Linked DNA regions of Homo sapiens: region 2 is linked to region 1. Evidence: fine-mapped expression QTL. A gene starts in region 1. The other region holds a variant in brackets. All regions are shown on one strand. Distances are between the middles of the regions.

Evidence for each region. PIP is the estimated chance that this variant, and not a neighbour inherited with it, causes the effect. A credible set is the group of variants that fine-mapping cannot tell apart.
Region 2: its variant is the best candidate, but not a certain one, in a credible set for the expression of WNT6 in skeletal muscle (FUSION, PIP 0.76).

Annotation. Positions count from the first base shown.
Region 1 is chr2:218,857,171-218,862,523 of GRCh38, forward strand. It overlaps WNT6 (Wnt family member 6), which reads left to right and starts at 2,635. Exons shown (of 4, transcript NM_006522.4): 1 at 2,635-2,947. The coding sequence starts at 2,868.
Region 2 is chr2:218,832,946-218,838,315 of GRCh38, forward strand. No RefSeq gene overlaps it. Among named protein-coding and RNA genes, the nearest start is that of PRKAG3, 3.8 kb to the left of the region's middle. The variant G/A (reference allele first, on the strand shown) is at 2,331.

The DNA of each region.
Region 1 (5,353 bases):
ATGCCAGCCAGCCCCTTGATGGGGATGCGGAGAGGGCAAAGGAGAGTGAGCAAAAGGGTGCTGTTGGGGCAGAAGCCCTAGGAATTGGGACTCCAGGAGTCCTGCCTGTCACAGATTCCAGCCCACCTCCCCCCGACCCCCCAACCCTATAATGCTCTGCAGGCACTACTGGGCCAACTGATTCTGGAATGGGACTGAGTGCAGGAGGGACAAGGGCTTGGGGAGTCCAGAGATGGCAAAAGATTCTGCAAGATCTGGCTAGAGTGAGTGCTGCAGGAGGGGTGGGGCCAGCTGTGTATGTTTGCAGGAAAGGTGGGGGGTGGGGGCAGAAAGGCCGCCTGCGGGGGAGAAGGCTTCTTGGCAAACGCCCCAGTTTCCTGAGCTGATCCCTGCTCCCTGCCACTGCTCCCAATTCTGTTGTTTCAATAACATCATTTTTATCCACCCCACAGAGAGACTGTGTCTTAGGAAGGGGAGGCGAGGGGCAGGGCTAGGGCATGGGGGAGGGGTGGTAATGGAGAGAGGCTGGGTCTGGAGGCAGCAGGGACTAGATTTGGGGCGCTCCCTCCTCAGGCAGAGGCAGGGCGGTCTCAGAGCCCAGGTCCCCTGATGACAAAGACAAATACATTAAAATTCTTGCCTCGGAGAAGAATGCAGGATAGGGAGAGCATTTCATAATCTGCAATAACAGTAGCAGGGTGGGAGCAGGGCTGGGCAGGGGGTTCGGAACCCAGACAGTGGCTCCCAGGAGGCTGGCCACTGGCCACCTGTAGCCTCCAGGGACCCCCAGAGCCCTCTAGCTGCCTATTTGGTACCACATGGCTGGAGTGTGCACCCAAACTGGGTATGTCTTTGAATGTGTAGTGTCCAGAGTTGGCATTGACCTTTAGGAACTGTCCAGATTGGCATTGCCCCGTAGAAACAGCAACTGTGTGCAAAGTTACTAGGTGCAGGGGCTGTGCGTGGCCTTTGGATACTGTTAAAGGCTAAAATGGGAGAGGGCAGTGCTTAGACCAGACCCTCTCTCTATGACTCTTGCCACTGCCCCCTGCCCCCTTCCCCTTCTTTAGTGTGTCCTAGCCCTTTCACCAGAACTCTCTGTATCCAGTGCAAGGGATTGAGCTGATGCAGCCTGGACACCAGGGCCCTGACATGGAGCTTGCTTGCCGGCAAGTCCACACTTCTCCAGTTCTCTCACCTCTGTCTGCTCATTCCTTCCCCCATCAGCCTCCTCCCCTGGGGTCACATCCCTTGGCCCCTTGGCCTCATCTTGATCTACTTGTCCCCCCTCTCTGGGTGACTCAGGATCTTGTCTTCTCTCTCTGCTCACCAAGGTTGTTTGGAAGTGACCTCAGTCATCACTCTCTTGGAAGCGACCTCAGTCCCCACATTCAGGTCCCCCTCTCTACCAACAACCAGGAGCTTTCTTCTGGGCGCCTGACGTTTCTGCCATAGGGACTCGATCTGTCCTCCCCACTCCAGGACAGCTTTAAAGGTTGATGGTTGCTCTTGATGGTATGGCAGGGAGAATGTCCCACACCACCTGTCCCTTGGCACCCCGGGGCACGTCGGGGACGGGAGGGGCAGGGGCTGCTGCCCACTGCCAGCCGAATGGCATGATGAATGGAGCTGTCCCTCTTCCCCACGGAGCCTTTGATCTCCCCCTCGTGGGGAGGGGGCCAGGGGCATCAAAGACATTTTTGTGGCATTAGAAAATCTGATAAACGCCATCTCACCTGCAGCTGGCTCTCCCACCCCTTCTACCCGGGCCAGGTTGGGGGAGGAACTCGAGGCAGGGACTCTTGGACACGCGAGGCCGGGCTAAAGCGAATTCTGACCCCTCGATCTCTTGAAAGTCTGCGACCTCCATTCTCCCGCTCGCTTACAAGTGCCAGCGCTTGCGCGCACGCCCTGGAGCGGCTACTCTTGCCCTCTCATTTCCCCCACCTCCCCGCCCTAGAACGCGGGCTTGAGAGGTGGGATGGCTGGGGGAGCGAGAGCGGAGGCCCAGGGCTTCCTCCCTTCTTCAAGGAGAGGCTGACGAAGGGGCATGAGGCATCGAACAGGGACACGGAAAGAGATGACCCCTCCAGCATCCGCCTGTCGGGCGGTCCAGTTTGACAACCCTCGCCGAAGCACCCCGCGCCCCAGGCCAACTTCCTCTCTTGCCTCCGCGCCAGCATCTCCCTCCGCACCGCCCCCCGCCCCAAACTCCCTCATTCCTGGGAAGTTTTCTCTCTTTACAGTCAACAAACCTGTCAAACGTCTCCCTTCCAGCCCGTCCCCCATTCCTCAGCTCCTCTTTCTCCCCCCTCACCCCTCTCTACTCTTCTTCCCAGCCCTTCCTTGCCCCCGACTCCAGGCGGCCGCGAGCGGCGGGGGGCTCCAAGTCCGAGAGAGGCGAGGCGAGGGGGCGAAGCGGGCGGGTCCCACAGCCCGAAGCGCGCTGGGGCCCCGCCCCGGCACCCCGCTCCCGCCCTCCGCTGCGCTCCGCGCCAGCCGCCCCGGGGCGCACGGCTCGCTCCCGAGAGTCCCGCTGCCTGACTGTCGCAACTGCCACCTCCCTCCGGCCCCCTGCCCCCCGCCCCCGCCTCGGCCCCGCTCCCCTCCCACCTCCGCCCCCGGCTCTGATTTCTTCTCCCGAGCGAGCTCCGCAGGAGACACAGGCGCTGGCTGCCCCGTCCGCTCTCCGCCTCCGCCGCGCCCTCCTCGCCCGGGATGGGCCCCCCCGCCGCCGCCGGATCCCTCGCCTCCCGGCCGCCGCCGTTGCGCTCGCCGCGCTCGCACTGAAGCCCGGGCCCTCGCGCGCCGCGGTTCGCCCCGCAGCCTCGCCCCCTGCCCACCCGGGCGGCCGTAGGGCGGTCACGATGCTGCCGCCCTTACCCTCCCGCCTCGGGCTGCTGCTGCTGCTGCTCCTGTGCCCGGCGCACGTCGGCGGACTGTGGTGGTGAGTCCGGCTGTCCTGGCGCGGCTCTGGACCCTGGAGGGTGGGGACCCCGGGACCCAGGACAGACTGGGGTGTTCCGCAGCCTCCCGGCTCTACCTGCTCTCCGAGCCCAGCTTTCTGGCCTCGGCCGGGGGCGTTTCTGAACTCCACTTCGACGTTCCTAACCCTCGGGAACATTCTATTGTGTTTCCTCCTCCCGGGTTCTCTCCCACCCCCCGCCAAGTTATGCGCTCACCCAGCTCACCAAGGAACAGGCGAGTGGGTAGGAAAGATCTTTCGGGAAGACACATATCCGAGGAAAAGAATGTGTGAGGAGGGCCCTGGATTCAGGGTATGGGGCTGGATTTGGAGAAGACAGGAACAAGGTGGGAAGCCACAAGGCAGAGAGGGCCACACAGCTGCCCCTTCCCCGCCCTGCTTTGCCTACCAACCCACCGGCTTCTCTCTGGGCTCCTGAGGAGTGGGCCTTAGTGACGACAGAGGGAATATAAAGGGGAAAGTGAGTCAGGACCCTGGTTTTCTCTACCTCGTCCTCCCCAAGCAAGGAAAAGGAGGAGCGGAAGGAACCGGACCCAGGCGCCCGGCCCTTCCAGACCTGGGGGTCATGAATGAAAAAATATGTGCAGCCCGGGAGATACGGGACCGGGAGGGGTCCTGCGGGAAGGGAGAGGGGCCTGGCCAGCCAAGGGAAGGGGGCGTCTTCCCAGGCTTGGCCCTAGCTAGAAGGGACACCTAGGCAGCGAAGGTTGCGGGAGCTTCGAGCCTTGGGGGTGGGGGTGGGGCCGGGGCGGGGAAGGAGGGTGCCCGACCGGGACGGCTCAGAGATCCAGATCCAAAGGACTTTTTTCCCCCTAGGTCTCCAGAGCCGCAAACCCTCGCCCGGAATAGCTCAGTGTTTAGAGAGGAGAGACTTGGACAATAACGCTGACGGGTTAGCCAATCCTAAGAAGGCAGGGTCGTGTCTATTTGCATATTGCCATGTGATTGGCTGGATGCCGACCCTCCGCTCCTCCCTCGCCCCCCAGATTTGGAAGAGAGGCAGATCCCCGTGCTCTGGAGAGATAGGGAGTAGGATGCCCACACAGGGAGTGGCGGGCAGCAATCCCTACTCCGTGATGCGGAGAGCCGTCCGACGCTAGTGTCACGGAAAGGGCGAACCGAGGACGACCCAGGTCCTATCTAGGGAACATATGCCCTTTGATCCGGCTTAGTATAATGCAGTGGCAGCTTTGAAGCAGATAGATCTAAGATCTAAACATTATGTTTGTGATCTTGGGCTAGTCACTTCCTTTCCCTACCTCTCAGTCTTAACTGGAAATAGGATAACAGTCTCCCTACCTGGCAGGCTTGCTGGGAAGGTTAGGTGGGAGGACGTGTAGAATAATAGGACCTTAGGAGGTACTCAGTATGTACAGCGCCCCCCTCACAACCCAGCTTCTCCTGGCCAGGGTCCCCAGGAGTGAAAAAGGGGATTCATTTACATTTAAAATCCAGAGTTCCAAGGAAAATGTTGTAAAGGAATCTCTTTTCCCCATAAACGCCTAACTTTGCCCTTTTTCAAGGTGTGGGGATGGGGTCCCTCCCTGATGGCCATTGTCTTCCTTCCCCTCCCTCCCCCTCTGTCTAAATCATTCTTATCCTTACGGTTAAAATACCATTTCCTCCCTGAAGCTGCCCCCTTGTCCTCCTTCCATTGCCTTCTCTGCGCTCCCACTGTATCACATACATTGGGCAACTATGCTGGTTACTGCATTTGGCTGACAACAGTCCTTTAGGTCTCTCTTCCCTGCTCCTGGAAGGCAGATACCTTGTCTTTAGGAGCCCTGAGGCCTAGGAGTGTGTTGGTGCTGGAGATGGGCTTGCAGAGTGTCATTGGACTGGCTGATTCACCTTTCTGGGCTCTGTATCTGTGGGGCTTCCTTTGTTCAGGAAGGACTGCTGGGTGGCAGCCAAGCCAAAGGAGAGTGGCCTGGTCCCTGAGAGACTGACCCTGAAGCTGGGAAGAAGGGAGTGGGGGAGGAGGTGACACGGGCAGGTGTGGGAGAACACAGAGGCCTTCATGGCCACAGCTGCAGGGCGTGCCGGGTGAGGAGTGAGGGGTCCCAGTGATAACGTGTCTGACTGCCTTGCTCAGATGTGCCTCTGAGGGAATGAGCCTCTCCTCCCTGCCTTGGCCCCTTCACTCTCCTTTGTCTATTCATTTTGTTTTTCTTTCTTTATTTCTATTTTTATTTATTTATTTATTTAGAGCAGAGTCTCGTTCTGTCGCCCAGGCTGGAGTGCAGTGGTGCGATCTTGGCTCATGGCAACCTCTGTCTCCCCGGTTCAAGTGATTCTCCTGCTTCAGCTTCCCAAGTAGCTGGGACTACAGGCACCCACCACCATGCCTGGCTAGTTTTTGAATTT
Region 2 (5,370 bases), 24 kb before region 1:
CACACCAAGCATGTTTTTTCAAATGGACTCAAGATAGCCACCACCAGTTTGAGAGAAAGGAGAGTAGGAAGAACACCAAGTCCAGAGTGTTCAAGCATAAAAATAAGGTCTACATGAGGCCATTGGCTGTGGTTACTCAAACATGGAGCCACTCAGAAGGCTTCTAAGATTGTGAGGGTGTTGTATTGGCAAAGAAACCATAAGCCTGATCAGCAAAGCCTGGTTTGACACCCCTTCCCTTGCCTTATTCCCAGCCCTCCAAATCCGCACCAGCAGGAAGAGGGCTGTGAAGGCTGGAAGGACTGCAGAAAGCACAAGTTTGCCAGTGTGGGACAAAGGATATTGGATAAACAACAGCTTCCCAGCAGGAAAAGCCAGAGGCTACATAGGAGAGTGGAAAGGGGAGATCTTCCCAGAGAGCAGAACCAGGGGTGGTCAAATGTGCTGACCAAGAACTTACTCCACTGCCAGGAAAGGGCTTAGCCATTCCTGCCCAACCAGATTTGATAATTAAGATCCAGCAGCTGCTGGGTGTTTGCCATTCTTTCAGTTGCAAGTGGATTTTTTTTTTTGAGACAGTGTCTCACTATGTTGTCCACGCTAGTCTCAAACTCCTGGGCTCAATGATCCTCCTATCTCAGTAGCTGGGACTATAGGCGCGTAGCAGTGTGCTCAGCATGAGTCAGTGTTTTAATTGAGCTTACCCTCTTCTTCCTCCACTGTTGTCTGTGGGGAGTAGGAGGTGCAAATCACCTGCCTGTTAGTTTTTAGGTCACCAGACCATAGGGTGTCCATCTACCTGGAAGAAGGAACTGCCCACCCCTCAGATAGCCTGGACTCTCAGCTGGGTGCCGTACTCAGATGGAACTCTGACTTGCCTCCTTTTGAAGGGCAGTAACTGTGTTTTTTGTGTGGGATGGCCAGATGGGTGAGCTCTAGTAGAGCAATATCTCTTCTACCCTTCTTCTGCTGTTAGTAAACCACTACAATTTTAACTGAATGCAAGATTATATTTCACAGCTTCTTTTGCAGATAGTATGGCCATATGACTAAGTTTGACCATGAAATTTGAGCAGCAATGTTATATACATATATATTATATGATAGAAGGGTACCCCTAGGAGGAAAGGGAACCCTTTCTTACTGGCTAGAATTACAATACGATGATGGGAGCCGGAGCAGCAAACTGAACCCAACGATGGAAAATGCAGTTTGAAAATGATAGAACATCCCCCACCCCTGTCCTGGTCTGCCTACCTCTGGATTGTTATGTTAGAGATAAATAAATTTCTGTCTTGTTTAAACGATCGACAAATTGAACCTTTGTTATAGCAGCCAAGCCTCTCTCTAACTAATACATCTACGTTGCAGGATTGAGGTAGGATTAGGAATTACATATGTAGATAATGACCCTGCATGTTCGTGCAGTGCTTAGTGTCTACTACACACTGTGCAAAACACATTATATGCCATGTCCTGTGTAATCCCTTGCAACCCTGTGAGGGAAATACTTTGACTATTACAATTTTACAGATGACAAAACCAAGGCATAAATAGATTAAGTAACTTGATCAAAATCTCAAAGCTAGTGGGATGGAGCCAAGAATCAAACCCAGACTCAGGCACCACATTTATAACCACTAAGCTTTATGGAAGACACAGACCTGCCCCCTCTATACCTCCAACCATGAGGCTTTGAAGGCAGGCAGGCAGGCAGGCAGGCACGGGAGGGCTCTGACCCTTCAGTAGCCATCTCCTGCTGCTGTCAAGGTTGGGGTGGAGGAGGACTCCAGCTGGGGGTACACACCAGCACTGCTCAACACTAAAAGCATAGCAACTTCACAGTTTTCAAGAAGAGCTCTGCCTTGCCCCTTCTCTCACCCTACACCTGCCTTTCGCCTCTCAGATCTCCACCCTGCTCTGACCACAAGCCTGCCTCCACTCATCGTCTGGCAGGGCAAATCAGCAGGAGGTACTGGCTTCAGTTGGGTAATAAATACTCCTCGGGTGATTGATTTTAGCCTCTGGCCATGGCATCATATTTCTGGAAACCCTACTTCTTGGCTCACTCGCAGACTGGGTATATAATAAGGACCCTGCACCCTGACCCTAGGGTGAATTTGGCTGCTATCTCTGGAGATCTGATTTGTCTCGGACATGGGGTTGGGGAACCTGTTTAAGTGTTATTTTTATATCAGGAGGAGGAAAAACAGCTTGAGGAGGCCAAGAGAGTAGCCTGGATGAGACCCATTACTGAATAAATCACAAATAGGGTCCCCTAGGCCAGAGCAGTTGGGAGGCTGGGAGAGCAGCCTTCATATCCATCACAG[G/A]ACACAACTGCTCTGTCCTGTTTGTGTGTGGCTAGACGGAGCAGCATCTGTGCAAATGTCTGAAGGACCTGGAAAGAACCAGCACCTTGTTAATGCAATTTAGTCTGCGCCACAGGCCCCATTACTGAGTCTTTTTCTGTGAGCAATTGGGAATTGTAGTGGACAGTTGTTGCTTTTCTATACCCAGTATCCATTTACCCCATCTTTTGGCAAACTTCTGGGTTTTCCTTTAGGAAACCACATTCCCTCAATTCACCTGCAGCACATGATTTTCAGAAGGGCTCAACTGTGGGTTCCACGAAGTATTCCTCTGGTTCAGTTGTAGCCAATTAGCACTCCAAATGCCTCTGGCCACAGTGAAGTGGGCATTGACAGAATTAGTCCAATAGGGGTGAATCCTGGGACTTTTGCTGGAGTTAGAAACTCTTTCCCACTGCCTTTGGAACTGTAAGGATGTAAGTGTGGAGATTCTGGATGCTACTATGCAGAGTGGAGCTGCCTGAAGGTGAAGCCAAAACAAAAGGCAAAATAGCCACTATGACTAAAAAGACCAGGTTCTCCTGACATTCATTGCGTCCTTGGATCAAACTGTACCTGAAGATCCACCACTTGGTTTTTGAGTTACATGAACCAATAGAATGGTTTTTTTTTTTTTGCTTAATGCAGTTTGAATTGAGTCTTCTGTCACTTGCAGCTGAAAGAATTCTAATTGATATCAGAGTTAACAAAGAAACAGAAGACTTGGCCGGACGTAGCGGCTCATGCCTATAATCCCAGCACTTTGGGAGGCTGAGGCGAGCAGATCACCTGAGGTCAGGAGTTTGAAATCAGTCTGGCCAACATGGTGAAACCCCCATCTCTACTAAAAATACAAAAAATTAGCTGGGCATGGTGATGCATGCCTGTAGTCCCAGCTACTCGGGAGGCTGAGTCGGGAGAATCACTTGAACCTGGGAGGCAGAGGTTGCAGTGAGCCGAGATCGTGCCACTGCACTCCAGTCTGGGCAACAAGAGTGAAACTCCATCTCAAAAACAAATAAATAAATAAATAAGAGAAATAAAGAAACAGAGGACTTAGACACCCTCAAAGACTTCTGGGGGATGTTCAGTCATTGCTTTTTCCTGAGAAATAGTGCATATTTGAAAAACAGCTAGAGTGAATCAATAAGCTATCAATGAGGGTAAAAAAATACTTGGAGAGGCTGGCCGTGGTGGCTCACGCCTGTAATCCCAGCACTTTGGGAGGCCAAGGCAGGAGGATAGCTTGAGCCCAGGAGTTCAAGACTAGCCTGGGCAACATAGTAAGACGTTGTCTTTACAAAAAATAAACATAATTAGCCAGGTATGGTGGCATGTGCCTGTAAGTCCCAGCTACTTGGGAGGCTGAGGAAGGAGAATCGCTTGAGCCCAGGCAGTAGAGGGTGCAGGGAGCCGAGATGGCACCACTGCACTCCAGCCTGGGTGACAGAGTGAGACCCTGTCTCAATAAATAATAAATAAATAAATAAAGTACTTGGAGAAAATAGAGTAAATGAAAGATCAGAATGGGACAAGGTTATTAAAGGAAGGCTTCCTAAACAAGGCGAGTTTAGATATAGAAATAGTAATCATGACAACAGAAACTATTTACTGAGCCCTAACTATGTCCTGGAAAGCATGTTAGGCATGTGGCAGAAAATCTTTCATGATAGTATCCGTATTGGGGAGGGCACTTTCTGTTATCCGGTAGCCCCTTTCTCACTTAATCTTGGAAGATACTTAGTTTATTGCCTTAGGGAAGAAATGACACAATGCAAACAGGAGCATCTTCTGGCTTTGAGTTTCAAAAGTGAGGTCTTCTGGGAGGAAAGGGAATAATACACTTTGCTTAAATAATATTTGAGAGTTTTGGCAGGCTATGTTATTCAGAAAATATCTTCCACTAAAAACAGCTTAAAATGCTAGATAAAATATAAAGAGCATCTTCTTAAAAGCACTGAAAAGACAAGATAGCAAAGACTTACTAGGCCTAACTGAAAGGAAAATGGGCACACAGTGAAGCTCATAAGAAAAGAAGTGATTTTTGTTCAAGGGCATTTGCCAGTTCTAGCGAGAACCACATGGGGTGATAAGGGCCCAGGACCCACACAAGTTGAGAGTATGATAAGAGACCCCGTATATAGAAAGCTGGGATCTCAAAAAACCACAACCTCAGAGTGAGTGTAATCCAGAAGCAAACTTACATGGATTTATAGTCAAAGTGTTCCTCATCTGAATGTCCAGAGAGTATCAAACCTTGAACTTGGTTTAAGAACCAGTAATGATCTCAGGTGCCTGGCAGAAGCAAATATGAAAGTCTCTGAAGAAAGTTATCATCTTCCAAGGTCACAAATTATTCCAATAGTACCCAACACATTCTTGAAGATAACAGGTACACAAGGAAACTAGGAACCATGAGCAAGAACCAGCAGAAAGACAGCTAGCAGGAAAGACCCATGAAAACCTCAGAAATCGGCATTATCAGACACGTTATATGTAACAATATGTTTACTATGTTTAAATAAATAAGATAAGTTTGAAAAAGTAGGGAGCAAGTAGGAAACTATAAAAAGCAGCATGGCAGATTTGAAAAAAAGTGAATAGAACTTCTAGAAATGAAAAATACAGAAATGAAGGTAAAAACTTAATAGATGAATTTAATGACAGACTAGATAAAGCTGAAAAGAAAACTGAACATTAGGTCAGAAGAATTTACCTGGAATGTAATACAGGGAGATTAAAAAATATAAAAGACAATGAAAGAGAATAAGAGACATAGAAGTCAGAGGAGGAAAGTCTAAAATATATTTAAATAGAATCCCAGAAGGAGAGTAGAGAGAGGATGGGGCAGAGCACTATTTGAAGAGATTAGCTGAGGTTTTCTGGAACTGATGAAAAATAACAATGTCTATCTCTGAGAAGCCTATGAATCCATAGGGGGATAAATGAGAAGAAACCATACCTAGAAACATTGCAGTGAAAAATGCAGAAACCAAAGAGCGAAAAAAATTTGAAAGCAGCT